Regions from separate parts of the Homo sapiens genome. Here region 2 is linked to region 1. The links come from fine-mapping of genetic effects on gene expression. A gene starts in region 1. The other region holds a variant in brackets. All regions are shown on one strand. Distances are from middle to middle. Region 1 holds the start of WNT5B (Wnt family member 5B). Region 2 has its middle 14 kb from the start of FBXL14.

The links. PIP is the estimated chance that this variant, and not a neighbour inherited with it, causes the effect.
Region 2: its variant is the best candidate, but not a certain one, in a credible set for the expression of WNT5B in whole blood (Lepik 2017, PIP 0.67).

The regions. Positions count from the first base shown.
Region 1 is chr12:1,627,821-1,630,730 of GRCh38, forward strand. It overlaps WNT5B (Wnt family member 5B), which reads left to right and starts at 1,411. Exons shown (of 5, transcript NM_032642.3): 1 at 1,411-1,551. RefSeq lists silencers at 2,329-2,518, 2,549-2,608, 2,563-2,857.
Region 2 is chr12:1,607,098-1,610,007 of GRCh38, forward strand. No RefSeq gene overlaps it. Among named protein-coding and RNA genes, the nearest start is that of FBXL14, 14 kb to the left of the region's middle. The variant G/A (reference allele first, on the strand shown) is at 1,811.

The DNA.
Region 1 (2,910 bases):
ACATCAAGTATGCTACCACCCCTTCCCATTCTTGATTCTGGTCCCCTCTTTATTTTCCTCATAGTATTCACTGGACCTAACTTATGATACATTTGTTTGTTCACTGCCATGTCTCTGGCACTTAGAGCAGTAACTGGCACATATTAGGCACCCAGGGTGTAATTCATTTGATTAATGAATGTATTGAATGGCTGCATGGATGAATGAAGAGGAGGAACAGAGCAGATGTCTGACCAGCTCATTCTGGCTTCTGGAAGGATCCTGATTGGGAATTTTGCATCTTTCCCTCCCCACAGCCTCCTAGTCACTACTACTAAAGAATAGAGACCCTGACTCCCACTTTTTTTTTTTTTTGAGATGGAGTCTTGCTCTGTCACCCGGCTGGAGTGCAGTTGTGCTATCTTGGCTCACTGCAACCTCCACCTCCCAGGTTCAAGCGATTCTCCTGCCTCAGCCTCCCAAGTAGCTGCGACTGCAGGCATGTGCCACCACATCTGGCTAATTTTTATACTTTTTTATTACAGGTGAGCTTTCACCATGTTGGCCGGGCTGGTCTCGAACTCCTGACCTCAGGTGATCTGCCCACCTTGGCCCCCCGAAGAGCCCCGCATTCTTAACTACTGTGTTTGGTATGTTTGAATTGACACTTGCCTCTTAGGAAGGGGAATCTTTTTAGACCCTGGGGAAATCTGTAGTTATTGCAAAGGCCTTTTCCTGCCTGTTGGGCATTTACCAGATCTTTCTTCCTACACAAGGAGAGCCTCCCCTGGTTGAATCCTGCTATAAATCTCACTAGTGACCCACAAACAGGGGTCCCAATGTGACCTGCTCATTAACACAAAACCGTCAGCCCCCATACAGCTTCCTGCCTTCCCAGTCGGGTTGAGGCAAGAAATTTCCATTCTGCCCATGCTGATGAAACCAGTCGCCAGCATTTACCTTTCTAAGGGGTCCTTTCTCCTCCCACCCCAGCCCACCCCAGCACAAGAATGTAAGAGAGGGCAAACAGCTGCCTGGCTTCAGTTCTATGGCCACTCAAGAATTGGCTCGCATCTGTCTGCCAGGACAGAGAGCGTCCTGAGGGGGCTGGTGTGTGTGTTGTGTGTGTGTGTGTGCACGCGCGCGTGCATATGTGTGTATGGGGGAGTTCAGTTTCAGGTACCACACATCTGGAAGTCAGAGAAAGAAGCCACTGCACATGTTAGAGCCATTTTGGGGGGCAATTTTTAAAAAAAAAAACATTTTTAATGGGCTGAGAGCCGCCTCGTGGAAAGCCCGGGGCGGGGGATGGAGTAGAAACAGCTGCGGGAGTGATTCTTGTCTCCATATATGTTTATAAGGCACTGAGGGCGGGATTAGCAGCTCCTGGGAAGTCTGGCTCTAGTTACCGTGTCAGCCTGTCCTGGGGGCAGTCACAGCCACAGTGACCATTAGCAGGCACCCAGGCCTGTCTTTGGCTCGGAAACGGTGGCCCCCAATGTAGCCTAGTTTGAACCTAGGAACTGCAGGACCAGAGAGATTCCACTGGAGCCTGATGGACGGGTGACAGAGGTGAGAGGCACTGGTGTGAGGGACAAGTGTCACAGGCGGGGAGGAAGAACTCCGCTATCTGGTGGTGGAAATGTGTGAGGATCAAAGTCCCCAGGGAGAGTAGGTGTTGCGGGCGGCAGGGTGGTGGGCTGGGCACGGGCTGGGCATAGGCTGGGCAGGAGGCTTCGGGGCCGCGGGGAGGAGGCTGGAGAAGCAGGAGGGCACGGGCGGCCCTAGCTCTGCAACCCCGGGAAGGACTGGTAGGTGGAGTTAAGGATATTTGGACAAGGAAACGCTTTGAAGCTTTTCTCTCGTCCTCCCTACTCGGGACCTGGTCGCCTCCCCTCCATAAAACCATTAGCTCCTGGTGCCAGCCCTATCTCTGCTCCATCTCTCGTGGTTCCAGCCGGTGCATTCACAGACCTTCTGCCCCGGGGGACGAGGAGGATTTATGGGGGGAGAGGAGAGGGGGAGGGGCATCCTCCAGAGGAGGGGGGGTCTGAGGGGAGTCGGGCGTGGAAGCTGTTAGTCCCGGGCTGGGGGCCGGCTCACTTCCGAGCTGGCTCTGCATGACAAAGGGGAAGGAGCAAGTGTCTTCTTTGATCTGCCCCCTGCCGGCCCCACACACCTGCCTGTTGGTGCCCCCGCCCCAGCCGAGGCTTCGAGAAGGAAAATCAAAAGGGGGCTTGGGGAAGGGCTGTGTCCCAGCTCTCCTGGACCCTGCTCGGGCCACTGTCCTCTCCTGGCGGCCCCAGGACAAAAATACTTCCCGGGCTGATGACCCGAAGCACCCGCCGCCCCCTCCCGGGGAGCCTGGGGACGCCGACGCGCGAGAGTGGCGCAGTGAGCCGGGGCGCGCGGGGCTGCGCTCGTCAGGTCCGGGGCCCCGGGGAGGCCGCTGGGGGCGCGGGTCACGCCCAGACGGGGGCCCCGGAGGACCGCGGGGGAGCCGCAGGGGCCGTGTGTCCCGAGGCGCAGGCTCGCTCTAGCAGCACTGACCTGCTGCGGGTCCCAGGGCCTGGGGACAGGGGCTCTCGGGGGCGGATAGAGGAACAGGCGTGGGTTACAGCAGGCAGGAGGCCAAGAGGCGGGAGGCCCGGGAGCCAGCAGGGAAGGGCTGTGGCATCTGGAAGATGCGTCCTCAGCTCAGGCATTTGATGCCAGAGCTGCCGCCTGGCGTCGGCAGTGTCCCCGGTGCAGCTGCTGGGCAAGGTACTCGGTGCCGCCCTCGAGGACCACGGTGCCGGGAGGGGCAGGGGCCGCCTAGGGAGGCACCACCTCAGCCGCCAGAGCTTTCCGGGCGGGCGGTTCGCGGCGTGGCTTGTACATTTCTCAGAGAAGCTGCCTTGAGAAAGTGAAAAGTCCTTGATCTGTACGCAG
Region 2 (2,910 bases), 21 kb before region 1:
TACGAGGTCAGGAGTTCGGGATCAGCCTGGCCAACATGGTGAAACCCTGTCTCTACTAAAAATACAAAAATTAGCTGGGTCTGGTGGAGCACACCTGTAATCCTAGCTACTCAGGAGGCTGAGGCAGAATTGCTTGAACTGGGGAGGCGGAGGTTGCAGTGAACTGAGATCACGCAACTGCACTCCAGCCTGGGTGACAGAGCAAGACTCTGTCTCAGAAAAAAAAAGAAAGAAAGAAAAAAAAAAGAATTCCTTAATTTCCTTAATTTAACTGGTTCAGGGAACCTAAATGAGAGTTGTCACATAATAGCAAATCTTAGTGACCAGATGACACTCAAAGCAGGTGTAAATATTTAACAAAAGCACTGTGTAGACATTTAATGACAATGGTTGCTTTTTGTTTGCTTGCTTTTTATTTGTTTACAAATGAAAATAAAGCAGAGAATGAGAAGTCACTTTCTCAGGGTCACGGGAACAATTCAGGTTGAACGCATCTCTCCTCCGACATGCCGAGCGTCTTTGAGTCTCCTCACCCAGGCGCACACTCAGGATTGCAGTCATCTGCTATTGTTGCCTTTATTTATTTTGAGACGGAGTCTCGCTCTTGTCACCCAGGCTGGAGTGCAGTGATGCGATCTCGGCTCACTGCAACCTCCGCCTCCCGGGTTCAAGGGATTCTCCTGCCTCAGCCTCCCGAATAGCTGGGACTACAGGCATGTACCACCACGCTCAGCTAATTTTTTTTTTTTTGTATTTTTAGTAGAGACGGGGTTTCACCATGTTGGCCAGGCTGGTCTTGAACTCCTGAGTTCAGGTGATCCACCCGTCTCGGCCTCCCAAAGTGCTGGGATTACAGGTAGGAGCCACTGCACCTGGCCTATTGTTGCCTTTTTACTTGATATTTCAATAAATTTGTGAGCAATTGGAATGGTAAGAAATTCGCTGCAGTACATAAAAGTTTGATCACTTAGACTGCTGTGTGATTAGGGTTGCTCAGTGATCTTCCGGCAATAAAGGGAGGAAAAGGAGAAATTTCAGATGGAGTGATGATGGATGTCCTCAGGCATGTCAATGGCTGCTGAAGTGCTATGGGAAAATGGAAAACACAATCTTTGGGATCCCTCTTTCAGCCATTTTCCTGCTTTTATATCTATAAACTTTAAAAAGTAGGGCATACTTTAAACAATAGTATACTAAGAAATTGTCACCGCTGGCAGAGCCAAAATTGAATCAGCTTGCCTTGTGATTACATCAGAAATGTGTCTTAGTCTGTAAAGCTTCACTACAGGAAATGCCCAGGAGCTGCTAATAAAGTTTAATACACATTTGCTTCCTTAATGCTATATTAACATCCTGACCATCACAACTTTCATTGTAAACCTATTGCTTATTAAAAACACCCTGTAAGATGTCACAAACTGACAGAAAGTTGGGGCTACTACATGAATTAATATGCTAACTAGTATTTTTCAGTGTTATATAGTATAAGATAGTAAGTGCTTGAAATATGAGCATTTTGAAATCCTTGGCCAGCATAATCCCATGGGTAACACTGAATTATCCATGGCTGTGGGAGAGAGCAGGTGGTTCACTTCCAACCATGGGTTGTGTTCCAAACTAAGGGTTTTTGTTTGTTTTGTTTTCTTTCTTTTAAAGAAAATCAAGTTTATTTTTGAAACTGTTCATTTTAATTCTAAGACAAAGCTAGAAAAAGAAGAATGGAAGATCTGGAAAAAAAGCATTGTCAACTGTCACTGTCCTACCATGGGAAAGAAATGTCTTACAAACGGAAAAAAAAGTTGGAGAGAAC[G/A]AGAAGTTTCTGGTGTTATGTAAGAGGAAGCGCCCAGATTACATATAAAAGTCAACTGCTTCACGCCCTGTTACTAAATATTAGGGATGCAAAATACGTGGTGGCAGTAAGTCAGAGCCTGGTTTCCTAAATATTTCTTACATGTTAGGGATCCTGAGAGATCCCTAAACAAGTAGAAAATTCTTTTTTTTTTCTTTTTGAGACAGGGTCTCACTCTGTTGCCTAGGCTGAAGTGCAATGGCATAATCATGGCTCACTGCAGCCTCAACCTCCTGGGATCCTGGGCTCCTGGGCTCCTGGGGTGATCCTCCCACCTCAGCCTCCCGAGAAGTTCCACTACAGCCAGCCACCACGCCTGGCTAATTTTGCATTTTTAGTAGAGACGGGGTTTCTCCATGTTGGTCAGGCTGGTCTCGAACTCCTGACCTCAAGTGAGCCACCCGCCTCGTCCTCCCAAAGTGCTGGGATTACAGGTGTGAGACACTGCGCCCGGCCAACAAGTGGAAAATACTATCCTGAATGAGTGTGTGTGTGCCTGCTGGGAGAATATTTCCTAGTGTTTCCTAGATCCTTGTTAGTTGACTTCCCACCCACAAAGCCCCAGAAGGAGTAAACTGTCTCTAAATATCAGAATAAACAACAACAATAAAACAACTTTTATATTTTCATTTCTTTTTCTTTTTGTTTTGTTTTGTTTTGTTTTGTTTTGTTTTTTGAGACAGGGTCTCACTCTGTTGCTCAGGCTGGAGTGCAGTGGTGTAATCATGGCTCACTGCAGCCTTGAACTGCTGGTCTCAAGCAATTCTCCTGCCCCAGCCTACCAAGCAGCTGGGACTACAGGCATGCGCCACCACACCCAGCTAATTTTAAAATTTTTTGTAGAGACAGGGTGTCCCTATATTGCCCAGGCTGGTCTCTAACTCCTGGTCTCAAGTGATCCACCTGCCTCAGCCTCCCAAAATGCTGGGATTTCCGGCGTGGACCTCACTGCCCAGCTAAAACAACTTTTAAAAGGTATATTAGAGATCCAACTAGATTCTACTCTTGCATTTATCTGCAGCATATCAGTTTGGTTTGCCCATGGTTAGGTGGTTCTTGGT